Regions from separate parts of the Homo sapiens genome. Here all the other regions are linked to region 3. The links come from fine-mapping of genetic effects on gene expression. A gene starts in region 3. Each other region holds a variant in brackets. All regions are shown on one strand. Distances are from middle to middle. Region 1 overlaps VSIG10 (V-set and immunoglobulin domain containing 10). Region 2 overlaps LOC101928274 (a long non-coding RNA gene). Region 3 holds the start of VSIG10 (V-set and immunoglobulin domain containing 10). Region 4 overlaps TAOK3 (TAO kinase 3).

Evidence for each region. PIP is the estimated chance that this variant, and not a neighbour inherited with it, causes the effect. A credible set is the group of variants that fine-mapping cannot tell apart.
Region 1: its variant is the best candidate, but not a certain one, in a credible set for the expression of VSIG10 in lymphoblastoid cells (GTEx, PIP 0.77).
Region 2: its variant is the best candidate, but not a certain one, in a credible set for the expression of VSIG10 in whole blood (INTERVAL, PIP 0.57).
Region 4: its variant is the best candidate, but not a certain one, in a credible set for the expression of VSIG10 in prefrontal cortex (ROSMAP, PIP 0.61).

What each region holds. Positions count from the first base shown.
Region 1 is chr12:118,069,589-118,076,949 of GRCh38, reverse strand. It overlaps VSIG10 (V-set and immunoglobulin domain containing 10), which reads left to right. Exons shown (of 9, transcript NM_019086.6): 5 at 2,958-3,251; 6 at 5,481-5,591; 7 at 5,883-5,898. It overlaps LOC124903030 (a long non-coding RNA gene), which reads right to left. Exons shown (of 2, transcript XR_007063479.1): 2 at 1-776. Among named protein-coding and RNA genes, the nearest start is that of WSB2, 12 kb to the right of the region's middle. The variant A/G (reference allele first, on the strand shown) is at 3,343.
Region 2 is chr12:118,123,642-118,131,002 of GRCh38, reverse strand. LOC101928274 (a long non-coding RNA gene) reads left to right here. Exons shown (of 4, transcript XR_945409.4): 2 at 4,333-4,522. Among named protein-coding and RNA genes, the nearest start is that of PEBP1, 8.8 kb to the left of the region's middle. RefSeq lists enhancers at 3,953-4,489, 4,665-4,959. The variant A/G (reference allele first, on the strand shown) is at 3,670.
Region 3 is chr12:118,100,361-118,107,721 of GRCh38, reverse strand. It overlaps VSIG10 (V-set and immunoglobulin domain containing 10), which reads left to right and starts at 3,711. Exons shown (of 9, transcript NM_019086.6): 1 at 3,711-4,129. The coding sequence starts at 4,051. LOC124903029 (a long non-coding RNA gene) reads left to right here and starts at 4,140. Exons shown (of 2, transcript XR_007063478.1): 1 at 4,140-4,733; 2 at 5,455-6,117. RefSeq lists an enhancer at 1,261-1,976 and a silencer at 3,618-3,867.
Region 4 is chr12:118,163,355-118,170,715 of GRCh38, reverse strand. All of the region lies in intron 17 of TAOK3 (TAO kinase 3), which reads left to right. Among named protein-coding and RNA genes, the nearest start is that of PEBP1, 31 kb to the right of the region's middle. RefSeq lists an enhancer at 3,421-3,530 and a silencer at 3,771-3,820. The variant A/G (reference allele first, on the strand shown) is at 3,869.

The sequences.
Region 1 (7,361 bases), 31 kb after region 3:
TGGTGGCTCACGCCTGTAATCCCAGCACTTTGGGAGTCAGAGGCAGGAGGATAGCTTACGGCTAGGAATTCGAGACCAGCCTGGGCAACACAGACCTTGTTTCTACAAACAATAAAAAATAAATAAAGTAGCTGGGCATGGTGGTATGCACCTATAATCCCAGCTACTGGGGAGGCTGATGTGAGAGTATTGCTTGTACCTAGGAGGTTGAGGCTGCAGTGAGCGGTCACTCCAGGCCTGGGTGTCAGAGTGAAACTCTGTCTCAAAACAAAAAAAAGGGAAAGGTAAGAGAGATCAGAAGCGCCAGGATCAGTCAGATGTGGTAGCTCATGACTGTAATCCCAGCACTTTGGGAGGCCAAGGACGGGCATATTGCTTGGGCCCAGGAGTTTGAGACCAGCCTGGGCAACACAGCGAAACACCATGATATGGTTTGGCTCTGTGTCCCCACCCAAATCTCATGTTGAATTGTAACTCCAAATATTGGCAGAGGGACCTGGTGGGAGGTAATTTGATCATGGGAATGTATTTCACACAAACACTAACACTAACGATAGGTGATGAGCCAAAAAAAAAAAAAAGGGACCGTGCATAATTTTCATGATATCCATCACACAGATAAACAAAAATGTCCTCACATTCAAAGCCATCCTGGGCCGAATTTAGCCCGCAGCTGCAGGTTGGAAAAGCTTGCTCTAGAGCGTCCAAAAGGAACCAGCTCTGCCAACATCTTGATGTTAACCTTGTAAGACGTTCTAGACTCCTGGCCTCCACAACTGTTAAGAGAATAAATGTGCTTTAAGCCACTAAGTTTGTCACAATCTATTACATCAGCAATTGGAAACAAATACAGCTGCCCTCTTGTCCCCTTGAAATCCTTGTCAGATATGTGTCCATTTTTATACGATCAGTACAGTTTTTATGTGTAAAAGTGTATAGCATAGAAGGAAGGCTTATGGATACAGTAGCCAGTTTATCCTGGTTTGCACAGAACTCTCCTGGTTTTAGGACTGAAAACTCCTCATTCTGGGAATACTCCACGTCCTGGGCAGACTGGGGCAGTTGATCACTCTGAATCCTAGCTGCATTGCCTATTTAGTTCTGTAGCATTCAGCAAATTACTTAACTTTCTCTGTGCCTCAGTTTCCTTATCTGCAAAATGGGCATAATAACAGGGTTGCTGTGAGAGTGAATTGGGTTAATACATGTAACAGTGCCTTGCCCACAGTAAATGCCTAGTAATCTTAGGCTTATTATGATGTAAGACGAGGTGTGGTGGAGAAATTTCTGGAGTTGGCCAGGCACGGTGGCTCATGCCTGTAATCCCAGCACTTTGGGAGGCCAAGGTGGAGGATCATTTGAGGTCAGGAGTTCAAGACCAGCCTGACCAACATGGTGAAACCCTGTTTCTACTAAAAGTACAAAAATTAGCCAGGCATGGTGGCAGGCACCTGTAATCCCAGCTACTTGGGAGGCTGAAGCATGAGAATCACTTGAACCTGGGAGGCAGAGGTTGCAGTGAGCCAAGATCACAGCACTGCACTCCAGCCTGGGTGACAGAGCGAGACCTTGTCTCAAAAACAAAAAAAGAAAAAAAGAAATTTCTGGAGTTGCTTCATTAGGAAGGAAATGTAGTGTTCCTGCCTTACCCATGAGGGATATGTTCCTAGATCCCCAGTGGATGCCTGAAGCCATGGGTAGCACTGAACCCTATATATATATATACACACACACACATATATACACACACACACATATATATATACACACATATATACATATATATACATATATATACATATACACATATATACATATATACACATATATATACATATACACATATATACATATATACATATATATACTATGCTTTTTCTTATACATAAATACTTATGATAAGGTTAATTTATACATTAGGCACAATAAGAGATTAACAATAGTAACTAATAAAAAATAGACAAGTATAACAATATACTGTCATAAAAGGTATGCGAATGTGATCTTTCTCTCAAAATATCTACTCAGCCTTCTTGTGATGAAGAAAGGCTCATGCAGATGGTGTGAGATTTCGTCACACGACTCAGAACAATGTGCAGTTTAAAACTTAGGAAATTGTGAATATACTTAAAAGTACTGCAAGAAATGAAAAAATAAAAAATTTATGAATTGGCCCGGCACGGTGGCTCACGCCTGTAATCCTAGCACTTTGGGAGGCTAAGGCAAGTGGATCACCTGAGGTCAGGAGTTTGAGACTAGCCTGGCCAATATGGTGAAACCCCGTCTCTACTAAAAATACAAAAATTAGGTGGGCGTGGTGGCTCATGCCTGTAATCCCAGCCACTTGGGAGGCTGAGGCAGGAAAATCTCTTGAATTCAGGAGGTGGAGATTGCAGTGAGCTGAGATTGCATCACTGCACTCCAGCCTGGGCGACAAAGTGAGACTCCATCTCAAAAAAAAAAAAAAATTGTTCATTTCTGAAATTTTCCATTTAGTATTTTTGGACTGTAGTCAACCATGGTAACTGAAACCTCAGAAAGTGAAATCACAGATAAAGGGGACTGGGGCCGGATGCGGTGGCTCACGCCTGTAATCCCAGCACTTTGGGAGACTGAGATGGGCAAATCACCTGAGGTTGGGAGTTTGAGACCAGCCTGGGCAACATGGTGAAACCCTGTCTCTACTAAAAATACAAAAATTAGCCAGGTGTGGTGGCGCATGCCTGTAATCCCAGCTCGGGAGGCTGAGGCAGGAGAATTGCTTGAACCCGGGAGGGAGGCAGAGGTTGCAGTGAGCTGAGATCGCACCACTGCACTCCAGCCTGGGCAACAGAGCAAAACCTCCATCTCAAAACAAAACAAAACAAAACAAAAAACTACTGCAGTTTTCCTGCAGATCTCAGGCCATGACTTGAATCTCTTTAAACATTTGTCTTTGTTTACCTTCTGATCACCAGGGGGTCCCTCCCTTCTCTCTGAGCCCATGAAGACTTGCTTCACTGGGGGCAATGTGACGCTTACATGCCAGGTGTCTGGGGCCTACCCCCCTGCCAAGATCCTGTGGCTGAGGAACCTTACCCAGCCCGAGGTGATCATCCAGCCTAGCAGCCGCCATCTCATTACCCAGGATGGCCAGAACTCCACCCTCACTATCCACAACTGCTCCCAGGACCTGGATGAGGGCTACTACATCTGCCGAGCTGACAGCCCTGTAGGGGTGAGGGAGATGGAAATCTGGCTGAGTGTGAAAGGTGAGTGGTGGAACTGGGCCTGAAGGAGGGAGGGTTCAGAGCTTCAGAGCACCCAGCATCAGCATGAGGACAGCCTGGTGCCTCCCTACAC[A/G]TGGGTCACTGCCAACTGGGAGAAGGCATATCTGCTTGCTTATGACTTGACAAGGTGGCTGGAAGAAATTATCCAACCCTAAACTCACTAATATTTCCATAGGTAGCAAAAATTACATAATATCTATACACACCAACGAATAGATATCTAGTGTATGTCAGTTGTAAAGCATAACAGCAAAATGAACACCTAAGAAACTATCATCCCACTGAGGATACAGAATAGTACCAACATGCATTAGGTTACTTGTATGTCTCAGGGCCAGATTTGGAAACAACGATAGGGCTGGGCACAGTGGCTCACGCCTGTAATCCCAGCACTTTGGGAGGCCGAGGCGGGTGGATCACTTGAGGCCAGGAGTTTGAGACCAGCCTGGCTAGTATGGTGAAACCTCGTCTTTACTAAAAATACAAAATTACTTGGGAGGCTGAGATGGGCAGATCACCTGAGGTTGGGAGTTCGAGACCATTAGCTGAGCATGGTGGCAGGTGCCTGTAATCCCAGCTACTCGGAAGTCTGAGGCAGAATTGCTTGAATCTGGGAGGCGAAGGTTGCAGTGAGCCGAGATCACACCACTGCACTTCAGCTTGGGTGACAGAGCGAGAATCCACTTCAAAAAGAAGAAAATAGCAATAGAACTTTAAAAACAGGATGCCTGCTTAAATTTGAGTTTAGAAAAATAAATACTTTTAAGTATAAGTGTGTCCCAAATATTTCATGAGACATACTTACACTAAAAAAACTATTCATTGTTTATCTGAAATCCAAATTTCACTGGGCATACTGAATTTTACCTGGGAACCCTCCCTGTAGGCCTAGTCTCATCTTGGGCCTCTCTCGAAAGGTAACCATGGTCCTGAATTTTAAGTTTTACTATATATGTCTCTACTTATTTCTTTTTATTTTATTTTTTATACAGATGAGGTCGCACTGTGTTGACCAGGTTGGTCTTGAACTCCTGGCCTGAAGTGAGCCTCCCATCTCAGCCTCCCAAAGTGTTGAGATTGCAAGCATGAGCCACCACACCTGGCCTCTTTCTTCCCTTCCCTTCTCCCTTTTCCTTTCTCTTCTCCCTTTTCCCTTTCCTACCTTCCTTCTTTTCTTTCCCTCCCCTCCCCTCCTCTTTCTTTCTTTTTTTTTTTTGAGACGGAGTCTTGCTCTGTCACCCAGGCTGGAGTGCAGTGGTGCGATCTCGGCTCACTGCAAGCTCCACCTCCTGGGTTCATGCCATTCTCCTGCCTCAGCCTCCCAAGTAGCTGGGACTGCAGGCGCCCGCCGCTGTGCCCGGCTAATTTTTTGTATTTTTAGTAGAGATGGGGTTTCACTGTGTTAGCCAGGATGGTCTCGACCTCCTGACCTCGTGATCCGCCTGCCTCGGCCTCCCAAAGTGCTGGGATTACAGGCGTGAGCCACCGCGCCCGGCCCTCTTTCTTTCTTTGAGATGGAATTTCGCTCTTGTTGCCCAGGCTGGAGTGCAATGGCGCGATCTTGGCTCACCGCAACCCCCGCCTCCCGGGTTCAAGTGATTCTCCTGCCTCAGCCTCCCAAGTAGCTGGGATTACAGACATGCACCACCACACCTGGCTAATTTTGTATTTTTAGTAGAGACGGGGTTTTAACATGTTGGTCAGGCTGGTCTCGATCTCCCGACTTCAGGTGATCCGCCCTCCTCAGCCTCCCAAAGTGCTGGGATTACAGGCATGCGCCACTGCGCCCGGGCTCTAGTACCAATTCTTAAATAGTGCTTCCTTTGCTCAAGACCCTGTCATATATCAATTATACTTACGTGTGGACCCGTTCCTGGACTCTCTGTTCTGTTCCGTTGATCACTCTGTTTATCATGGCATTGATAACTCTCAACACTCTTACTTACCATGGCCTTAGAAATAGTCTCAGTGTTTGGTAGACAGAGAGATTTTAACTTTCCATTGTTTGTTCACATTCCCTGCTCCATCTGATCCCCACAAACTCTCTGAGGTTGGGTGATAAAATATTTATCTGGCATTACAGACAGGTCATAAGCCTTACCCAAGGTCAGGAATCAAGACAAGAACTGGATCCACGCAGAGAAAGGGAGGTGTTGTTCTAATTGCACACATATCTGATGGAAGAATCAATGGTGTGATTTGTCTTTACAGAACCTTTAAATATCGGGGGGATTGTGGGAACCATTGTGAGCCTCCTTCTGCTGGGACTGGCCATTATCTCAGGGCTTCTGTTGCATTATAGCCCTGTGTTCTGCTGGAAAGGTAAGGACTCCCTGGGTCCTTTAGCTTCTCTTCCAGACTTTTGAAAAGGTGCGGGATGGGGAAGGATGGCCCCTGCCTTGCTCCCACCTGAAGTTCTGTTCTCTGGGCTTCTTTGCTGGGTCAAGATACACAGTAATAAGTCACCTAAGTACCATCCCGGGACACCCTATCACCTGTCATATTGAGTCAGTTTTCTTATTTGTTCCTCTAGTAAATGTTTGCCTGATTAAGAACCTGTCAGGTTGAAGTGGATGTTACTGGATATTAATGGTTTTTCCTTTCTCTCTTCAGTAGGAAACACTTCCAGGTGAGTGTTCCCTAGAATCAAACCAAACACCCATTCCCGCATCTGTCTTCACTTCTGTTTTGTTCCCTTCCTTTCACAAGAACAATAATAGCAACTACCATTGAGGACCTACGATGTGCTAGACACTGGCCTAGGGATTTCATCAGGTATTCTTATAAACCCTTTCATCATCTCCTCAGGGTGGTGGTGACATCTCCATTTTCCAGATAAGGGGATGGAGGCTCAGTGAAGTAATTTCTGCAAGCTCATTCCAGAAGAAAGCAGCAGTGCCTTCCTTCAGGTCCAGGTCTAATCAATTCCAAAGTCTGTGTTCTTTTACAGCGCCAAACCTCAGGGCTGGACACATTGCAGGTCTGTCATTGAGACAGAAAGACAATGTGTACATTTTGAGCCAGTCATTCATGCATTTGTTTTATTTAATTTTCTAAAAAGAGCTAAAAGAAAGAATCAGTCATAGTCTTAAGTTTTTTTTTCTTTTTCTTTTTTCTTTTTTTTTTTTTTTTTGAGACAGAATCTCTCTCTCTTGCTCAGGCTGGAGTGCAGTGGTGCAGTCTCAGCTCACTGCAATCCCTACCTCCCAGGTTGAGGCCATTCTCCTGCCTCAGCCTTCCGAGTAGTTGGGATTACAGGTGCGCACCATCAAGCCTGGCTAATTTTTGTATTTTTAGTAGAGACAGGGTTTCACCATGTTGCCCAGGCTAGTCTCAAACTCCTGGCCTCAAGTGGTCTGCCCGCCTCGGCCTCCCAAAGTGCCGGGATTACAGGCACGAGCCACTGCACCCAGCCAGTTTTACAGTGTTTTGGAAGACTACTATGAGCATGCCCAGAACCCCCTCCCAAAAGGAAACCCCAGTAGGGGCGAAGGAACCAAACGGAACTTGTGTATTTCATTTCCTAAGGAGATTCTGGGTGGGAGCAGAGTACTCTTCTCTATGATCCTATGGAAAAACAGTTCTTTACCTCTTCAAAATGACAGGATATTATTGACCTGGGACCATCTTTCGTAGCAAAACATTACCTTTACTGCCCTGTATTGGAGGGCCATTCTTAGTAAGTCTGTCATTCCCTGGGCTTATTTCTCACTGGAGGCATCAGTGTGGTGTAGTAGGAAAAGGCACTGAGACCATTGGACCTGGGTTCAAATGACAGCTGTGCCATTCCCAAGCCCTGTACCCATAGAAAATCCCTGACCCTTTCTGAGCCTTAGTCTCCTGATTTGTTTCACCAGGGGGTTTGTGAAGATTAAATGACAATGTAACACAGCTCCTCGGGCAGGTGACTGACCTGTGGCGTTCATTCTTCTTCCTTAAGAAATGCATAGTCCAGGCCGGGTGCAGTGGCTCACGCCTGTAATCCCAGCACTTTGGGAGGCCGAGGCGGGTGGATCACCTGAGGTCGGGAGTTCGAGACCAGCCTGACCAACATGCAGAAACCCCATCTCTACTAAAAATACAAAAAATTAG
Region 2 (7,361 bases), 23 kb before region 3:
TTGGGAGGCCGAGGCGGGCAGATCGCTTGAGGCCAGAAGTTCAAGACCGGCCTGGCCAACATGGTGAAATCCCGTCTCCACTAAAAATACAAAAATTAGCCAGTCGTGGTGGTGGGCACCTGTAATCCCAGCTACTCGGGAGGCTGAGGCAGGAGAATGGCGTGAACCCAGGAGGTGGAGGTTGCAGTGAGCCAAGATCGCGCCACTGCACTCCAGCCTGGGTGACAGAGTGAGACCCTCTCTCAAAAAAAATAAAATTAGTGATCATTCAAACCAGAATCATGACAATCTTTGTGAAGAATGGCTTGCTTTGTGTCTTAAACAAGACAAGCTGCAGAATACCTGCCATGCCCACAGCCCCTAGGACATCCTCAGGGGCCCTTCCACTGACACCCCTCCCACCTTCATCCAATTCAAAGGCTTCTCAAACCACCTATGAAATGGCCTGACTCAACAGCATGACCTGGACCAATCAGAGTTGACTATTTTTGTTTGTTTGTTTTGTTTTTTGAGACACAGTTTCATTCTTGTTGCCCAGGCTGGAGTGCAATGGCACAATCTCGGCGCACCACAACCTCCGCCTCCCGGGTTCAAGCGATTCTCCTGCCTTAGCCTCCCAAGCAGCTGGGATTACAGGCATGCACCACCATGCCCGGCTAATTTTGTATTTTTAGTAGAGATGAGGTTTCTCCATGTTGGTCAGGCTGGTCTCGAACTCCCGACCTCAGGTGATCCGTTCACCTCGGCCTCCTAAAGTGCTGGGATTACAGGCATGAACCACTGCGCCCGGCCACTTATTTTTTTTAAAATCACAGTTTATCCTTTTATCTGTTGATGAACTTTGGGCTGTTTCCAGTTTTTTTACTACTATGAATAAACTCCTGTAAACATTCTAGTATATCTTTTTGTGGACATGTATCTTAATTTCTCTTGGGTAAATATCCAGGAGTAGGATTACTGGATTATATGGTGTTTAATTTTGTAAGAAACTGTCAAACATTTCTCCAAAGTGGGTGTACCTTTTTTTTAAGCTTTATTTATTTATTTTTATTATACTTTAAGTTCTAAGGTACATGTGCACAATGTGCAGGTTTATTACATATGTATACATGTGTCATGTTGGTGTGCTGCACCCATTAACTCATCATTTACATTAGGTATTTCGCCTAATGCTATCCCTCCCCCAACCCCACGACAGGCCCCAGTGTGTGATATTCCCCACCCTGTGTCCAAGTGTTCTCATTGTTCAATTCCCACCTATGAGTGAGAACATTCGGTGTTTGGTTTTCTGTCCTTCGACAGTTTGCTCAGAATGATGGTTTCCAGCTTCATCCCAAAGGACATGAACTCATGCTTTTTTATGGCTGCATAGTATTCCATGGTGTATATGTGCCACATTTTCTTAATCCAGTTTATCATTGATGGCCATTTGGGTTGGTTCCAAGTCTTTGCTATTGTGAATAGTGCCGCAATAAACATACATGTGCATGTGTCTTTATACTGGCATGATTTATAATCCTTTGGGTATATACCCAGTAATGGGATCGCTGGGTCAAATGGTATTTCTAGTTCTAGATCCTTGAGGAATCGCCACACTGTCTTCCACAATGGTTGAACCAACGGTGTAAAAGTGTTCCTATTTTTCCACATCCTCTCCAGCACCTGTTGTTTCCTGACTTTTTAATGATCGCCATTCTAACTGGTGTGAGATGGTATCTCATTGTGGTTTTGATTTGCATTTCTCTGATGGCCAGTGATGATGAGCATTTTTTCATGTGTCTGTTGGTTGCATAGATGTCTTCTTTTGAGAAGTGTCTGTTCATATCTTTTGCCCACTTTTTGATGGGGTTGTTTGATTTGTTTTGTAAATTTGTTTAAGTTCTTTGTAGATTCTGGATATTAGCCCTTTGTCAGATGGGTAGATGGCAAAAATTTTCTCCCATTCTGTAGGTTGCCTGTTCACTCTGATGGTAGTTTCTTTTGCTGTGCAGAAGCTCTTTAATTAGATCCCATTTTTCTATTTTGGCTTTTGTTGCCATTGCTTTTGGTGTTTTAGACATGAAGTCCTTGCCCATGCCTATGTCCTGAATGGTATTGCCTAAGTTTTCTTCTAGGGTTTTTATGGTTTTAGGTCTAACATTTAAGTCTTTAATCCATCTTGAATTAATTTTTGTATGAGGTGTAAGGAAGGGATCCAGTTTCAGCTTTCTACATATGGTTAGCCAGTTTTCCCAGCACCATTTATTAAATAGGAAATCCTTTCCCCATTTCTTGTTTTTGATAGGTTTGTCAAAGATCAGATGGTTGTAGATGTGTGGTGTTATTTCTGAGGGCTCTGTTCTGTTCCATTGGTCTATATCTCTGTTTTGGTACCAGTACCATGCTGTTTTGGTTACTGTAGCCTTGTAGTATAGTTTGAAGTCAGGTAGCGTGATGCCTCCAGCTTTGTTCTTTTTGCTTAAGATTGTCTTGGCAATGCAGGCTCTTTTTTGGTTCCATATGAACTTTAAAGTAGTTTTTTCCAATTCTGTGAAGAAAGTCATTGGTAGCTTGATGTGGATGGCATTGTCAGATTCGACTTTTTAATCAGCACTAGTGCCTAAGGAGAAACAGCTGTTGTGAATGGTAGGAGCTAATATAGAATGGAGGTGATACTTAGAGACTACAGAGGGGCCATCAAAAGCTTTGTAGGGCCGGGCATGGTGGCTCACACCTGTAATCCCAGCTCTTTGTAAGGCCAAGGTAGGAGGATCGCTTGAGCTCTGGAGTTTGAGACCAGCCTGAGCAACATAGTGAGACCCTGTCTCTACACAAAATACAAAAAAAAATTAGCTGGGCCTAGTAGCATGGGCCTGTAGTCCCAGCCCCACAAGGCTCTTAATGGTCTCACATTCCTGAGCTCAAGTGATCTCCTGCCTTGGCCTCTCAAAGTGCTGGCATTGCAGGCATGAGCCACTGCGCCTGGACAAACTGGTATTTTAAAAGAAGAAGGCCAGGTGCAGTGGCTCATGCCTGTAACCTCAGCACTTTGGGAGGCTGAGACGGGTGGATCACCCGAGGTCAGGAGTTTGAGACCAGCTTGGTCATCATGGTGAAACCCTGTCTACTAAAAATACAAAAATTAGCCAGGCCCGGTGGTGGGCACGTGTAATCCCAGCTATTTTGGAGGCTGAGTCAGGAGAACTGCTTGAACCCGGGAAGCGGAGGTTGCAGTGAGCTGGTATCGCACCACTGCACTCCAGCCTGGGCAACAAGAGCGAGACTCAGTCTCAAAAAATAAAAAAATAAAAAGAAGAAGAAGAAGAAGAAAAGTAATTTGTTCATGTACTGAGATGCTGGTGGGTGATTGGCTTCAGGAGTGTCTGGATCCAGGGACTTACCTAATACCTTAGGTATCTGTCTCCCTCCTGTGTTTCCACCTGTGGGGTGGTTTCAATTTCAAGTAGACTCCTCCTTCATGTTTCCAGATAACCATTCTGGTAGACAGTTTCTAAGATGGACCCAGTGAACCCCACGTCCTGGTATTCATGGCCCCGTGTGCTCCCCTCCCCTTGAGTAACTTGCTTCTAATCAATAACATAACATGTAAACGGGATGTCACTTCTGATTAAGTTATGTAAGGCTGGGTCAGGTGCAGCAGCTCACGCCTATAATCCTAGCACTTTGGGA[A/G]GCCGAGGCAGGAGGATTGCTTAAGCCCAGGAGCTCAAGACCAGCCTGGGCAACATGGTAAGACCCCCATCTCCCCCAAAAATTAAAAAATTAGCCAGGTGTGGTGGCACACCTGTAGTCCCAACTACTGAGGAGGCTGAGGCTGGAGGATGGCTTGAGCCTAAGAGTTCAGGGCTACAGTGAACCATCATCACACCACTGCGCCCCAGCCTGGGCGACAGAGCAAGACCCTATCTCAAACAACATATGACGTGCGGACAGGATGTCACTTCCGATTCCGTTGTATAAGGCTGTGGTGGGCTGGGCGCGGTGGCTCACGCCTGTAATCCCACCACTTTGGGAGGCCGAGGCGGGCAGATCACGAGGTCAGGAGATGGAGACCATCGTGGCTAACACGGTGAAACCCCGTCTCTACTAAAAATACAAACAATTAGCCGGGCGTGGTAGCGGGCGCCTGTAGTCCCAGCTACTCGGGAGGCTGAGGCAGGAGAATGGCGTGAACCCGGGAGGCGGAGCTTGCAGTGAGCCGAGATCGCGCCACTGCAGTCCAGCCTGGGCGACAGAGCAAGACTCCGTCTCAAAAAAAAAAAAATAAATAAATAAATACATAAATAAGGCTGTGGCTTCCATCTTGCTAGCACGCGCTCTCCATTACTTTCTCAGCTTGCAGGCCTCTGGGAAGCAAGCCATCGTGTGGCAGAGGCCCAGGTGGCAAGGAACCAAGGGCGGCTTCTGGCCAACAGCCAGCGAGGACCTGAGACCGTAGCCCAACACCCCTCCAGGAACTGAATTTTGCCAGCAACCAGTGAGTGACCTTGGAAGTGGATCCTTCCCCCGAAAGCCCGGCTTTCAGGTGAGTGGGGAGTACGAGTCCTGGCTGAAAACCTAGGTGAGATTCTTCAGGCCTGCCTGACTGTGGGCAATGATGAAGGCTTTCCCTGGCCGGCCTCGGGGAAAGCTGCCCTCCCCACACCACACTGGGTGCCCAGCCTATGCACTGCAGTGTCTGAAGGGAACTGGAGTCAGAGACTCCAGTGGCCCTGGCCGGCCATGCTCTTGAACACATTTGCATTCCTAGCCAGGCAGCACCTTTGATCCTAGGTCTCTTTATCTGGGGCCTTGGGCAGAGGTCTTCTATGGGGCTTCTGCCAAGGCCCCCTTCTAGGGATGGGAGCGGGAAACCTTGAACCCACTGTTTCCTACCCTGATTTCATACCTAGTACTTTTCCACTCTTAGCCCTTATACCATCACAGTCAAGTGATAAAGCCTTTCCTCTTTCATTTTTGGCTTATTGCTTTCTATCTTTTTTATTATTTTTTTTATTTTTTGAGACAGGGCCTCGCTTTGTCACCCAAGCTGGAGTGCAGTGGTGCAATCATGGTTCACTGCAGCCTCAACCATGTGGGCTCAAGTGATCCTCCCACCTCGACCTCTTGAGTAGCTAGGACTACAGGTGTGCACCACCATGCCCTGCTAATTTTTTTATTGTTTTTTTTTTTTTTTTTTTTTTTTTTTTGGAGAGACAGAGTCTCACTATGTTGTCGAGGCCGGTCTCAAACTCCTGGGCTCAAGTGATCCTCCTGCCTTGGCCTCTCAAAGCGCTTGGATTACAGGTATGAGCCCAATACACCTGGCCAATGGCTTATTGCTTAATTGGCTATTTGGACACCTGACACCTCAGCTTGCCCTCCCAGCTTGACTAAGGTTTTGACAATGAGACCCGAGACCTGGCTGAGACCTTATTGAAACCTTGCGAGACCCTGGGTCAGCGGAAGACCCAGGTCTGGTATCCCCAAACCCCTGATCTATAGAAATTATAAGATAATAAAGGCCGGGTGTGGTGGCTCACGCCTGTAATCCCAGCACTTTGAGAGGCCGAGGCAGGCAGATCACCTGAGGTCAGGAGTTCCAGACCAGCCTGACCAACATGGAGAAATCCCATCTCTACTAAAAATACAAAATTACAGCTGGGTGTGGTGGCTCACCCCTGTAATCCCAGCATTTTGGGAGGCTGAGGCGGGTGGATCACGAAGTCAGGAGATCAAGACCATCCTGGCCAACATAGTGAAACCCCGTCTCTACTAAAAATACAAAAAAAAAAAAAAAGGTGAGCGTGGTAGCAGGTGCCTGTAATCCCAGCTACTCAGGAGGCTGAGGCAGGAGAATTGCTTAAACCCAGGAGGCAGAGGTTGCAGTGAGCTGAGATCGTGCCACTGCACTCCAGCCGGGGAGACAGAGCTAGACTCCCTGGGTGACAGAGTGAGATTTTGTCTCAAAAAAAAAAAAGAAAGAAAGAAAAGAAAAAGAAATACAGGTAGGAAACGTAAAGGCAAAAGATGTCTTCTGCAAGTAGCAAATGAGTGATGCACACACCAATGCAAAGAGCTTGTTAATCAGCCTAAGAGAGCAGCATCTAAGTAGCAGGTGAGTAAGCCCCTTGCGTGTGTACACAGCTAATATTAATTATGTATGATACTGGCCACTTAATTAAAACAGACTCCATCTCTACTTATCAAAATGTTATGAGTTTCTGCAAGCTCCGGAATTTTCCGCAAGCTCCGGAAATTAAGAAACTGTATTCATTAAAACACATCAACCTGGAATTTATTTCTACTTCTCCAACTGTTTTGACTTAGTCATGTTTATCTGTAGTGAACATTTGACCAAAAGTTCAAGGTAAGTAAACAAAGAGATTAGATTAAAAAGGGTTGCCAAGCCAATTCCCTAGAGTTGGATCAAAGTTCTAGAAGGGCAAATGTCACATATACAGAAATATGACTGGGCACCATGGCTCACACCTGTAATCCCAGCACATTGGGAAGCCAAGGCAGGTGGATCATTTGAGGGTAGGAATTTGAGACCAGCCTGGCCAACATGGTGAAACCCTGTATCTACTAAAAATACAAAAAAGCCGCACATGGTGACACACACCTGGAATCCCAGCTACTCAGGAGGCTGAGGCGGGAGAATTGCTTGGACCTGGGAGGTGGAGGTTGCAGTGAGCCGAGATCATGCCACTGCACTCCAGCCTAGGCAATAGAGCTAGACTCCATGACAAAAAAAAAAAGAAGAAAAAATTCAAAAATTAGCTGGTGGGGTGGCAGGGTGCCTGTTGTTTCAGCTATTCAAGAGGCTGAGGTGGGCCGGTCGTGGTGGCTCACACCTGTAATCTCAGCACTTTGGGAGGCCCAGGTGGGTGGATTACCTGAGGTCAGGAGTTCGAGACCAGCCTGACCAACATGGAGAAACCCCATGTCTACTAATAATACAAAATTAGCCGGGCGTGGTGGCGCATGCCTGTAATCCCAGGTACTGGAGAGGCTGAGTCAGGAGAATCGCTTGAACCAGGGAGGTGGAGGTTGCGGTGAGCCCAGATCATGCCATTGCACTCCAGCCTGGGCAACAAGAGTGAAACTCTGTCTCAAACAAAACAAAACAAACAAACAAATATATATGTATGTGTGTGTGTGTGTGTATATATATATATATATATACACACACATATATACACACACTCATACACATACATACATGCCTGGCAAAGTGGCTCACATCTTTAATCCCAGCACTTTGGGAGGCCAAGGCGGGCAGATTGCTTGAACCCAGGAGTTTGAGACCAGCTGAGCAACATGGCGAAACCCCATTTGTACAAAAAATGCAAAATTTAGCCAGGTGTGGTGGCCCTCACCTG
Region 3 (7,361 bases):
TATTTATTTATTTATTTATTTTGAGCAGTGTCTCTCTGTGTTGTCCAGGCTGGAGTGCAGTGGCACAATCTCAGCTCACTACAACCTCCACCTCCCAGGTTCCAGCAACCCTCCTGCCTCAGCCTTTCAAGTAGCTGGGATTACGAGCATGCGCCACCATGCCCAGCTAATTTTTTATTTTTAGTAGAGATGGGGTTTCACTGTGTTGGCTAGGCTGGTCTCGAACTCCTGACCTCAAGGGATCTGCCCACCTTGGCTTTCCTGAGTGCTGGGATTATAGGCATGAGCCACCTTGCCTGGCCCAGTTACTGATTTTATTTACCGCTTGTTTATTGCAGGTGAGGATGTAAGGTGTTTGCCAGAAAAGCTGAGGAACTACAATATCAAAACTAATCAATTCTCATTTGTTTACTCAACAAATGTATATTAGAATGGCAACTAGCTGGCAGGTACTGAGGATACAGGAAACAGGTCTGGTTAGTATAGGATCTCCACAAGGTCAAACATGAAAAGCAAGAACCAAGTTGGGTGCAGTGGCTCATGCCTGTAATTCCAGCACTCTGGGAGGATTGACTTAAGCCTAGGAGGTTGAGGCTGCAGTGAGGTATGATTACACCACTGCACTTCAGCCTGGATGATATAGGGAGACTCTGTCTAAAAAAAAAAAAAAAAAAAAATTCCAGGCCGGGTGTGGTGGCTCACGCGTGTAATCCCAGCACTTTGGGAAGCCGAGGCAGGTGGATCACGAGGTCAGGAGATCGAGACCATCCTGGCTAACTGAAGGGGTGGGTTGCCCCTCCACACCTGTGGGTGTTTCTCGTAAGGTGGAACGAGAGACTTGGAAAAGAAAAAGACACAGAGACAAAGTATAGAGAAAGAAATAAGGGGACCCGGGGAACCAGCGTTCAGCATATGGAGGATCCCGCCAGCCTCTGAGTTCCCTTAGTATTTATTGATCATTCGTGGGTGTTTCTCCGAGAGGGGGATGTGTCAGGGTCACAAGACAATTGTGGGGAGAGGGTCAGCAGACAAACACGTGAACAAAGGTCTATGCATCATAGACAAGGTAAAGGATTAAGTGCTGTGCTTTTAGATATGCATACACATAAACATCTCAATGCTTTACAAAGCAGTATTGCTGCCCGCAGGTCCCACCTCCAGCCCTAAGGCGGTTTTTCCCTATCTCAGTAGATGGAACGTACAATCGGGTTTTATACCGAGACATTCCATTGCCCAGGGAGGGGCAGGAGACAGATGCCTTCCTCTTGTCTCAACTGCAAGAGGCATGCCTTCCTCTTATATTAATCCTCCTCAGCACAGACCCTTTACGGGTGTCGGGCTGGGGGCAGTCAGGTCTTTCCCTTCCCACAAGGCCATATTTCAGACTATCACATGGGGAGAAACCTTGGACAATACCTGGCTTTCCTAGGCAGAGGTCCCTGCGGCCTTCCGCAGTGTTTGTGTCCCTGGGTACTTGAGATTAGGGAGTGGTGATGACTCTTAAGGAGCATGCTGCCTTCAAGCATCTGTTTAACAAAGCACATCTTGCACCGCCCTTAATCCATTTAACCCTGAGTTTGACACAGCACATGTTTCAGAGAGCACGGGGTTGGGGGTAAGGTCACAGAATCTCAAGGCAGAAGAATTTTTCTTAGTACATAACAAAATGGAGTCTCCCATGTCTACTTCTTTCTACACAGACACAGTAACAATCTGATCTCTCTTGCTTTTCCCCACACTAACACGGTGAAACCCCGTCTCCACTAAAAATACAAAAATTATCCGGGCGTGGTGGCAGGAGCCTGTAGTCCCAGCTACTTGGGAGGCTGAGGCAGGAGAATGGCATGAGCCTGGGAGGCGGAGCTTGCAGCGACAGAGCGAGACTCCGTCTCAAAAAACAAACAAACAAAATTCCTGTCAAGAATCTGATGAACAGTTATTTTATTTTATTTTTTATTTATTTATTTTTTTTGAGACGAAGTCTCGCTCTTCTCCCCAGGCTGGAGTGCAATGGCGCGATCTCGGCTCACTGCAACCTCCACCTCCTGGGTTCAAGCGATTCTCCTGCCTCAGCCTCCCAAGTAGCTGGGATTACAGGCGCCTGCCACCACACCGGGCTAATTTTTGTATTTTTAGTAGAGACGAAGTTTCACCATGTTGGCCAGGCTACTCTCGAACTCCTTACCTCAGGTGATCCACCTGCCTCGGCCTCCCAAAGTGCTGGGATTACAGGCATGAGCCAACGTGCCCGGCTGATGAACAGTTATTTAAAAATATTTGAGCAAAGAATAAAAAAGGGCTGAGCGCGGTGGCTCGCACCTGTAATCCCAACACTTTGGCAGGCCAAGGCGGGTGGATCACTTGAGGTCAGGAGTTCGAGACCAGCCTGGGTAACATGGAGAAACGCTGTCTTTACTAAAATTACAAAAATTAGCTGGGCGTGGTGCTGCACACCTGTAGTCCCAGCTACTCGGGAGGCTGAGGTGGGAGGATCACTTGAGCCTGGTAGTTTGAGGCTGCAGCGAGGTATGATTGTGCTACTGCACTCTAGCCTGGGCAACTGGAGTGACACCCTGTCTCAAAAAAATAAAAAACAGAAAAGTAAAAAAGGCAGAACTGTTCAGCTTCATTGCTCAGTTCACCAGGAGAAACATTTTTTTTTTAAAGTGGTTTCAAGAGGATTTCCTCATGGAAGAAGCATTTCAATAAGGGGACCGTTGAACAACAGAACTAATGATTTTTTTTTAACGTTAATATTTATTTTGAGATGGAGTCTCGCTCAGTCGCCCAGGCTGGAGTGCAATGGCGTGATATCGGCTCACTGCAACCTCCGCCTGCTGGGTTCAAGCGATTCTCCTGCCTCAGCCTACCCAGTAGCTGGGATTACAGGCGCCCGCCATCATGCCCGGCTAATTGTTGTATTTTTAGTAGAGACAGGGTTTCACCATGTTGGTCAGGCTGGTCTCGAACTCCTGACCTTGTGATCCGCCCACCTCGGCCTCCCAAAGTGCTGGGATTACAGGTGTGAGCCACCACGCCCTGCCATATTATTATTATTTGAAACAGGAAGTTTCTCCTAGGGCTGTTTTATGGATGGCTCTTCCTGAGGATATCAAAGCCGCATTTTCCCCAGGACAGAATGGGATGAGGGCATGGCAGGGAAGAGAGGAGCTTAGCCTGGGAATCTGACTGGGTAAGGGGTGGGAGAACTAAAAGGGGAAAAGCAAAAACAAAACTCTTGAGAAACACGTCCTGGGGACTCCTTGGCTCTCGCTGTCACTGTGTGGTCCCAGCCAGTTCACTGGAGAACCGGAGTCTCGTGGCTGCTTTGGCTGAAAGTCAGGGGATCATCTTTCTCTGGCTCCCTTTTGCAGAGGGTAAGGAAAGGAAGCGATGGCGGCCTTGGCGCCCGCCCTGCGCCCAGGGACACAGACCGGAATCCCTCGAGACGCTCAGCGGGGACTGCCAGGGGGGTCCTGCGTTCTGCAGCTTGGCAACCGCTTCCTCCGGGTTCTGCAGCCCGGGGCAGCGGCGGGGGTTGCGTCCTGCGGCAGCTGCAGGGCTCCGTCCCGCCCGCTGTCCCCGCGACTCGGTACTGCTGTCCCGGGCGGAGTGGACTGGGGAGGGCCCAGCCTCCGCGCCCCGCCCCTGGCCCGGCGGGACCCGGCTCGGCGCGCCCTCGGCAGAAAGCCCTCCTCCCGGGCCAAGGTAGAGGAAGTTGGGCTCCCGCCTGGCTGGGAGGCGGGAGGGATCCCGCTCCTGTTGTTTTCCGCCGGCAGGAGTAGGCTGGCGGGCGCAGGGGGCGGGGTGCGCCCTCCCTCCCCGGCCAGGGCGCTCGGGAGCGGGGACCCGAGCCTGCAGCCGAGCTCCGCTGCCGGCCCTGGACACTCGGCTCAGCCAAGCATCCTTCCTGGGGGCCGAGGAAGTGGGGCCACTCTGCCGTTCCGAGGACCTGGGAGGAGCCCTCGGTACCCCGGGCCCCGGGGCCCTGGGGCACACACGTCCAGCCCAGCCCGAGCCTGCGTTTCCTGAGCCGGGATCTGGGGCGAGATGGCCGCAGGCGGCAGTGCGCCCGAGCCCCGCGTCCTCGTCTGCCTCGGGGCGCTCCTGGCCGGCTGGGTCGCCGTAGGTAAGGGGCCGCGATCTGGAGGGAAAAGTTGAGTTTTCCCAGTCAGCGGTGGGGAGGGGACAGCGAGAGACCCAATTCCCTCCGACTCCGCCCGGATCCGTGGTGGCCCCAGCCTAGAAGCTGCCCCAGGAGGGTCTTGGTTTCCTGCTCGCAGCTCGGCCGTCTTTGCAGGAAGGAGTTTTCCCGGGCGCCCGGTGCGGGGCGAGATACCCCCAGCCTCCTGGGGTGGGCAGCCGGTGAGGCTGCAGAGGAGCCGAGCCGAGCCGACGTGCGGGGGCAAAGTAAAGAGGCACGTGTGCCGGGAAAGTGATTTTTTTTTTTAAGCGTCGGATGTAAATTCGCGTTCTGGTTTTAGTAGTAACTGATACGCTGGTGCTCAAACTCGAGACTCCCACTTTATTTTTCTCCTCCCTCTGCCCAAGGTTGAACTCGCCTTACACCTGTAACCGGTGGACTTCCCTACACACCTTTGCAAGTCTTCCTGTGCCGACCAGCGCCTTCAAAGCGGGGTCTTCCGCCTTTACTTTTGGAAAAGCTTTTTATTTTGAAATACTTGGCTGACTTACAAAAGACTTCCCCTCACACTTGACATGATTGACAAAAGGTCTGAAATGCTTCATCTATGGTCTGCTTTGCTACGAAAAAAGAATTGGAGGGGTGCTTACAAAAATATGTAGAATGTAAAAAGATTGAACTATTTATATATATTTGAATTTAATTCACCAGCATGCCTACTGTGCATGCCTACTGTGTGCTGGGAGTGTGACAAGCTGGGAGGAGGCTGGGGTGCAGGGAGAGGAGATGGAGCCAGGAGGTGGTGAAGTTTGCCAGGATGCAGGCAGAGCGCTACTTTTTGTGTTCCCGGGTCTGCTCCACCCAACGGGTCTCCTCTTGCACGTTTCTGGAGATGGGTTGTAAAGTATGCTGGAGCTTCTTAGCAGCAAGTGCCAAGAGTTCCTAATTATTAGGCTCATACAATTTTATTTTGCTTTTTTTTTTTTAACCAACCATTTAAAAACAATAACATCTCTAGATTTCCAGTTTATCTGGAAAAATCTGAAGGTCTGGCAACACGGGGCCTGCTTTCCCAGTTGGAATTGGGCAGTGGTCATCCTCTTATCTAGGGCATATGAGCCCAAATTTGTTCCACCTCTCCCTGTTGTAATATTTGCCCCGCCACCTTCAGTCATGGGTGTTACCTGCTGGCCCTGCAGGCATTTGGCTGAGTAATCACTGTGCTGGGGTGTGGGTGATGGGGGAGGACAGTTCCTAGTTGGTCATCTCTGGACGTGAAAGGTGGTTGTCAAGTATTCCCATCTCCCCAGCTGTTTGCAGTGTTTCCTGCACGATGAACACCAGGAACCTGGGAAGTGAGAAGAACCCTGGGATGAAGTCATCCTGCTGGAATGACCTGGCTTTCAGGCTGACTGCCACCCGCCCCATGGGGAACCTATCTCCACTGCTATGGCCAGCTATTTTTTTCGAGCCAGGCTCTCGCTCTGTTGCCCAGGCTGGAGTGCAGTGGTGCAATCACTGCACTGATCCTCCCACCTCAGCCTACAAGTAGCTGGGACTACAGGCGTGCACCACCACGCCTAGCTAATTTCTAAAATTTTTTTGTAGAGACGGTCTCTACAATCGCTTGAGCCCAGGCTGGTCTTAAACTCCTGGACCCAAGCGATCCTCCTGTCTCGGCCTCCCAAAGTGTTGGGATTATGGGTGTGAGCCACCGTGTTGGGCCTTTGCCCAGCTATTTTGATGCCCAGACCTGCTTCACCTTTGTGTATGATGCCAGGGGGCTTCCTGAGCTTGGTGTATTTTTGTTGTGTGTTTGTTTTTTAAGTTGGGAGTTTTTGGGGAAAAAAATTTTTCTCCTGACATTCAATGCCAGACAACTTATATGCATCCACTAGCTACCCCGGATTGTAAATCCTAGGTTATTCTTGGGAAAAGTTGCTTTAAAAAAATAAATAAATGTTTGGGTATAACTCCTACTCTGTAAATAATAATACATGGGCAGCATCAGGGAGTTTATATTACTCCCTCTTCGGTTCTCTATTGTACATTTAAGGTTGGGGGGCAAGAAGGACCCTCTGGACACCATATGAATGACTTCTAAACTTGTTACTATATTTTATCATTGCATCCTGTCTGGTGCAGGAGACCAGAGTAACGTGACCTGAGTGACAATCCCACATCTCCCAGTGATTTGCTTGGGACTTTAAGTGATAACTTAATCTTCCTAAATCTCAATTTTCTCAGTAGTAAAGTGAGGAGGTTTAGGACTGCCAGGCAAGAACTACCCCTTCCATGTCTATGTCAGACATCACTAAATCGATGACTGTGTTCTTTTCCACTGAACCAGGACTCAATCTCATCTTCAACCCAGCCCACAGGGCAGCCACATCTCTGGACTAGATGATCTCCAAGGGCACCTTCAGATACAGTGGTTTAAAAAAGAACGGAGTAAGCCAAACCAGGAGAAGTGAAATGTCTTCAAATGGTTTCTTTTGTGATCATGTCATTCTATGCCTTGGAGGAGAAAACAATGTTAGCTCAAGTTCCAAGACTAAAGTTTCACCACGGCTTTTTTCCAAGCCACTGTTCCTTTATTTCTTTGCCAAGGAGTTAGGCAAGGGGCAGGTCTGCAGGTTGCATGAACACATGTTGCATCTGTAACTCTGAAGTTCATCTTCCTTTCCATTGTGGCGGTTGCCACTGGATAATTTGGGTTCCCAATCCTAATAATTTAAAAATAATTCTTGGCTGGGTGCGGTGGCTCCCGCCTGTAATCCCAGCACTTTTGGAGGCCGAAGTGGGCAGATCACCTGAGGTCAGGAGTTCAAGACCAGCCTGGCCAACACAGTGAAACCCTGTCTCTACAAAAATACAAAAACTTAGCGGGGCATGATGGCGGGTGCCTGTAATCCCAGCTACTCAGAAGACTGAGGCGGGAGAATTGCTTGAACCCAAAGGCAGAGGTTGCAGTGAGCCGAAATTACGCCTTGCACTCCAGCCTAGGCAACAGAGCGAGACTTCATCTCAAAAAAAAAGTAAATAAATAAATAAAAAGAATTCTTATCTGCTTTTTTTTTTGAGACAGAGTCTTGCTCTGTTACCCAGGCTGGAATGCAATGGTGCGATCTTGGCTCACTGCAACCTCCGCCTCCCAGGTACAAGGGATTCTCCTGCCTCAGCCTCCCGAGTAGGTGGGATTACAGGTGTGCGCCAC
Region 4 (7,361 bases), 63 kb before region 3:
CCTCAGCTCACTGCAACCTCCACCTCCTAGGTTCAAGCGATCCTCCCACTTCAGCCCCCCAGGTAGCTGGGATTACGGGCACACACCACCACGCCCGGTTAATTTTTATATTTTTAGTAGAGGTGGGGGTTTTACCATGTTGTCCAGGTTGGTCTCAAACTCTTGAGCTCAAGTGACCTGCCTGCCTCAGCCTCCCAAAGTGTGGAGATTACAGGCATGAGCCACCACATCCAGCCTGCTAAACATTTTTGAGAAGGGCAGTGATATGGCTAAAATTGTACTTTAAAGAGATTAGCCCAGATTGACAGTAATACACAGAATGATTTGAACATAGATTCTCAATGGGGGTGATAACGCCCCCAGTGGGTGAAAGTGGGTTCCTGTTGGGGTGCGGTGACCTAGGTCTTATTACAGCTTCAAAGGACCACAGTGCATAAACAGATACACAGTTTACCTGTGGTATTAATATTTCAGTGATGGGGATAATTAAGGGAGAAAAAGCCTAGAAAGCCTCCTTATAGGGGCAATGATGAAAAAAAAAACTGCTTGAGAAACACAGGATTAGAGAGAAGAGACTAGTAGCAGGAAATAGGATATGGACAAGGCTGGTGGTAGTGGCTGTCAGAGCAGTAGATTCAAAACACCATTTGAAGTTTAAAGTAAACAGGACTTGACATATACTAAGATACGAGAGAGGCCGGGCGCAGTGGCTCACTCCTGTAATCCCAGCACTTTGGGAAGCCGAGGCGGGCGGATCACGAGGTCGGGAGATGGAGACCATCCTGGCTAACATGGTGAAACCCCGTCTCTACTAAAAATTCAAAAAAATTGGCTGGGCGCAGTGGCAGGCATCTGTAGTCCCAGCTACTCGGGAGGCTGAGGCAGGAGAATGGCGTGAACCCGGGAGGCGGAGCTTGCAGTGAGCAGAGATTGCGCCACTGCACTCCAGACTGGGTGACAGAGGGAGACTCCGTCTCAAAAAAAAAGATATGAGAGAAAAGATGATGGAATCAAAATTATTTCTAGGGCTTAACACTAGGGGAAATGAAGATGTGGTAGAAACAGAGAAGAGATTAAAGAGAGGTTTTGGTAAGAAGCTGACTCAGGCCGGGCATGCTGGCTCATACCTATAATCCCAGCACTTTGGGAGGCTCAGGCAGGCGGATCACTTGAGGTCAGGAGTTCGAGACCAGCCTGGCCAACATGGTGAAACCCCATCTGTACTACAAAAATTAGCCAGGCGTGGTGGTGGGCGCCTGTAATCCCAGCTACTCGGGAGGCTGAGGTGGGAGGATGGCTTGAACCCAGGAGGCAGAGCTTGCAGTAAGCTGAGATCATGCCATTGCGTTCCAACCTGGATGACAGAGTGAGACTGTCTTTAAAAAAAAAGGGGGGGGGGTGGGGGTGGGCGTGGTGGCTCACGCCTGTAATCCCAGCACTTTGGGAGGCCAAGGCAGGTGGGTCACCTGAGGTCAGGAGTTCGAGACCAGCCTGGCCAACATGGTGAAACTCTGTCTCTACTAAAAATACAAAAATTAGCCAAGTGTGGTGGTGGGTGCCTGTAATCCCAGCTACTTGGGAGGCTGAGGAGGGAGAATCACTTGAACCTGGGAGGCAGAGGTTGCAGTGAGCCGAGATCGCGCCATTCCACTCCAGCCTGGGCAACAAGAGTGAAACTCTGTCTCAAAAAAATAGAAAGAAAGAAAGAAAGAAAGGAAGGAAGGAAGGAAGGAAGGAAGGAAGGAAGGAAGGAAGGAAAGCAAGCAAGCTGATTCAGTACTGCACATTTTGAGTTTGTCAGAAGTCAAAAAATCAAAATGAAAAAGGCTAATGGCCAGTTGGAAATAAGTCATTTGGGAGTCTTTTCATGTAACATTTATTGTTATTCTAATAATAGATATTTGGAGGAAGTCTGAGGCTAAGGGGACAATTCATGTCAATAAAAGTTACAGAAGATAATTACTCCCTAAAAATGATAGAAACTATATTGGTGACTTCATTAGTATTAGGTTCTAGCCAGTTGAGCAAAAAATAACTCTGTAAGAGTATTTTTCTTAAAAGTCTAGATTTTCTTTTGTTTAGTCTTATTCCAGAGCCCACCTTCATGAAAATGTTCAAAGCTTTTTTATTTACAAAAGTAACTCAAGAACATTGAAAATAGACGAAAACAGAAACACATAAAGCTAAGTAGTGAAAGTTCTTTTTAACAGTTTTATTGAGATATCAACATATAAAAATTGTATGTATTTACGGTATACAACTTGATGTTTTGATATATGTATACATTGTGAAATAATCACCACATGAAAGCTAACTAACATATCCATTACCTCCGCATAGTTACATTTGTGTGCATGTGTGCATGGGGTTGAGTAGGGAGATTTAATTTAGGACTTGTCCTCTTAGCAAATTACAAGCATGTAATACAACATTGTTAACTATCATCACCATGCAGTGAGTGCATTAGAGCTCCAGTAATTATTCGTCTTGCATAACTGGAACTTTCTACCATTTGACCAGCATCAGCCCATCTTCACCTTTTCGACAATCCCATTCCACCCAATCTCTACCCTCAAACAGTCTCCATTAATTTGGCATGTATATTTCTAGGTTTTTTTCTATATACATATGTACAGCTATATTATATATGACTTTACAAAAATGAGATTACTTTTGTATCAGTAGGATTATTTGATTTGCAAGCAATAGAAATAAACTCTGGCTGACTTAAGGCTGAAAAGGAATTTATTGGAAGGATATGAGGTAGGTAAAGAGCTGAAGAACTGAGCGGGAAAACATGAAGAGCCACGCTGGTAAAGCAACTTCCATGACACAGAGAGCAAGGGCTCATGTGCAGTTCTCCAGGCACTGCCATTTCAGTGTACCTCCTCCAACCACTTTTTGTCTTTGTATCGTTTCTGTTCGAGATTAAAATTCCTAGGAGAGATATAACTTGATTGGGTCATGTGCTTATGCCTTATTCAACACTCTCTCTGATTCCAGATAAGGGGGAGTCATTTTGCAAAAAAAGGAAAAAAAAAAAAAAGAGCCTATAAAGAGAAGCAGGAAAAATGGAAGCTGAGCCTTACAAAAAGTAACAGATGTCCACTCCACTGTTTTGTAACTCTTTTTTCCATTTACCTTCCAGCACGTACAGCTCTGCTTCATTCTTTTTCATCTAATAGTATTTTGTTGTATGGCCTCAATATCATTTATTTAATGAGACACTTCTCGGTGGACATTTTGTTGAAGTTTTACAGTATTATTAATAATATAAGAACATTGTTGTACATAGATATTTTTACATGTAAACAAGTATTTTGGGGGATACATTTTCGGAAGTGGAATTCCTGGGTCAAAGAATGCATACATCTAAATTTTTAAAATAAATATCACTAAATTGCTCTCTAAAGGAGTTTATACTCCCACCAACAAAGCACAAGAATGCCTGGTTTCCTGTGTCTTTGCCTAAAGGATTGAGTATTAGCAATCCTTTTAATTAGTGAAAACAAGAAGATCACTGAAACTGGGTTGAGCCTCTTTCTCTATCACCAACACACACAGACACTCAGCATTTTCTGACCAGTGTTGAAACTAAGAACTGAAACTAAGAAGGCATTAAATGTCATAGGCTGACAGCATCTCTATTTAAAAGTTAGAATTCTCGTTTTTACTCAACCTCAGTGAGCCTGAGCATAAAAATTTGGCATGAGTGAAATCCGCTGCTTTTAAAGAAGTCAATACTACTTCCATTAGAAGTTAGAGTGCTTGAAACACACTGGACATTGACCGAGGGAAAGGAAGCTGCATGTATCTTATCCCACACTCCCTCCAGGGCTTATACGTGTGTGTGTGTGTGTGTGTGTGT[A/G]TGTGTGTGTGTGTGTGTGTATATATATATATACACACACACACATACATTGAGTACATGGGTGGGCAGAATGATCTGTACCATTAAAACTGATTTTTTAGTTTTTGCTCAGCTCATTTTGTTAAATTTGTATAAGCTAAAGGTGCACATGATGTGGCTCTAGTGTGTATATTGTGTCATTTGTACAAATAAAGTAACCATTGTATCATGTCTAGCTAGAGCAGAATTCTTCAAAATATTTTATCACAGACTGAAAAAGTATAAAACAGGAAAGTATGCCATTTATTAGAACTTTTTTTTTTTTTTTTTGAGACGGAGTTTCGCTCTTGTTGCCCAGGCTGGAATGCAATGGCGCAGTCTCAGCTCACTGCAACCTCCGCCTCCCGAGTTCAAGTGATTCTCCTGCCTCAGCCTCCCAAGTAGCTGGGATTACAGGCATGTGCCACCACACCTGGCTAATTTTGTATTTTTGGTAGAGACAGGGTTTAACCACGTTGGCCAGGCTGATCTCGAACTCCTGACCTCAGCTGATCCACCTGTCTCAGCCTCCCAAAGTGCTGGGATTATAGGCATGAGCCACCGCGTCTGGCCTCATTTATTGGAACATTTCTAATGGAAAATGCTGAGAAGCTAAATACCTGAGTTTTAGCCTCAGTTCTCTTTATAGAAGTTGTGTAACTTTATGTTAGTCCTTCAACTCCCAAATGCCTACTAACACATATAAAAGGGGGAAATCCTTACAGTCTTATCACCTCATAGGGTGGCAATTTGGATTGAATGAGATGTATGGAATAACTTTTAAAAATGGAAAGCACATTAAACATTATTATGTAGGCACAGCACTGGCCTCATAATAAGGTGAATAATTTTTCCCCCATGTCTCAAATATTAAAGGTAGCTTACCATCTTACACCTCAGCAACTCAGATGTACAAATTAAAGGTGAAGGGAACAACTTGTAACAGAAAAGCCATTTCAGTATCATGTTTTTCTTACTCTTCTAATAGTTTATAAAAACTAGATTTAAGATATTATATGCCATGTATTCCCTTCTGAATAGAGAAAAATAATGACATTTATGTATTCTGAAGCACTTTCTTATGGTCTTTCATTTTATCTTTACAACTACGATAGTTCACAATGTGTACTGCTATCCTCATTTTACACCTGAAATACAGATTAAGAGACTTGCCCCAAGCCATACATAAGACTTATAGAGGAGCTGAAACTGACTCACACCCTTAGCACTTTTCCATTGATTCTCAAACTTTCATATATATCAGAATTAGCTGCGTAGCTTGTTATAGAGACTAGTCCCTTATAACACAGGTAATTCGGATGTAGGTATTCTGTGGACAGTATCTTGAAGCATTTCATTAAGCAGGAAGAGAAGCACTTGATTTCTTCTGAAGGTGTTTGCTTGCTTTGTGTGTTTTGCTTTGTGTCAAGAGCCCATGAGTTTCAGGGCTCTTAGCAACTCAGGCTCAGTTTGCATTTCTCAATTTAGGAAAGTGTGGGATGAATAAATGCCTGGTGTTGGGACTCCTGGACCTCAATTAAAGTCCTCATTTAAAGGGCTTTCCTTGGCCTGGGAGAGCTTTCGTCTGTGGGAAGGGCTCTCCATCCTTTGGTGCCACCTACGGGCCAGTTACTGCTTTGTAAAAAAGAAATTTGATGGTCTAGGTAAAGAAGAAAAATAAAACAAAGGAAAACACGGGAGGAGATGAGAGAGATAACTCTAAGGGCTTATTTTTTATTCCTTAAAACAAATTTAAATTGTATTTATACTTTGGGTTTTTTCTCCTTATAAGGTCGCTGAGGGGGTGTACATGTTCACTGTTCTATCCCTAGTTCCTACAACAGTGCCCAGCACATAGTAGGTGCTCAATAACTACTTGTTGAATGAATAAGTGAATGATTAGTGACTGTACTCTAGTACTAGATGCTGTGCTATTAAAAGGATTTCTCTTCAATCAATAGGGAGCCCAAGTGTGCAAGATATTTCCAACCACGCCAGTATAAAAATGTTATCGATGATATCTATTAAAATAAATAATTTGCATTTTCTCCTATAGTGGATGCCATCAGAGAAGAGAGGCCCTCTATTGTTCTAATTTAAAGTACAGCTGAGGCTGGGGCATGGTGGCTCACGCCTGTAGTCCCAGCACTTTGAAAGGCCGAGGCGGGTGGATCACCTGCGGTCAGGAGTTTGAGAACAGCCTGGCCAACATGGTGAAACCCCATCTATACTAAAAATACAAAAATTAGCCAGGCGTGGTGGTGGGCACCTGTAATCCCAGCTACTCGGGAGGCTGAGGCGGGAGAATTGCTTGAACCCTGGAGGCGGAGGTTGCAGCAAGCCAAGATCGCACCATTGCACTCCAGCCTGGGCAACAAAGTAGAAACTCCGTCTCAAAAATTTAATAAATAAGTATAAATAAAGTACAGCTCAAAAGCTTTCTCCTTTCCTTGACGTTCTTTTGTTTGTTTGTTTGTTTCGTTGTTGTTTTTCTGTTTTTTTTGAGACGGAGTCTCGCTCTGTCCCCCAGGCTGGAGTGCAGTGGCGCGATCTTGGCTCCCTGCAAGCTACGCCTCCCGGGTTCACGCCATTCTCCTGCCTCAGCCTTCCGAGTAGCTGGGACTACAGGTGCCCGCCACCAGGCCCGGCTAATTTTTTTTTTGTATTTTTAAGTGGAGACGGGGTTTCACCATGTTAGCCAGGATGGTCTCGATCTCCTGACCTCGTGATCCACCCGCCTCGGCCTCCCAAAGTGCTGGGATTGCAGGCGTGAGCCACCGCCCCAGGCTCCTTGACCTTCTTAATAGTAATACTGCTAGGTCGGGCACGGTGGCTCACGCCTGTAATCCTACCACTTTGAGAGGCCAAGGCGGGCAGATCACCTGAGATCGGGAGTTCGAGACCAGCCTGACCAACATGGAGAAACTCCATCTCTACTAAAAATACAAAAGTTAGCCAGGCGTGGTGGCATGTGCCTGTAGTCCAAGCTACTCTGGAGGTTGAGGCAGGAGAATTGCTTGAACCTGGGAGGCGGAGGTTGCTGTGAGCCGAAGTCACACCATTGCACTCCATTGCACTGGGCAACAAGAGCAATACTCTGTCTCAAAATAATAGTAATAATAATACCACCCTTTTCAGAAATCTTATAGCATAAAATCTTTACCCCTTTTATAGCATTCATCACTTATCCAACATTGCTCTCTCTCTTTTTTTTTTTTTAATTTGGACGTAAAACTTATTTCCTGGCTGGGCATGGTGGGGTGGCTCATGCCTATAATCACAGCATTTTGGGAGGTTGAGATGGGAGGATCACTTGAGTCCAGGAGTCCGAGACCAACCTGGGCAACATAGTGAGACCCCATCTCTACCCCCACCCCCCCCAAAAAAAAAGTATGTCCCTGTATTAATTAAGATTTTTTTGTTTGCATGTTAACTGAAATTTATTTCAGCTAGCTTAAGCCAAAACCAGGGAAAT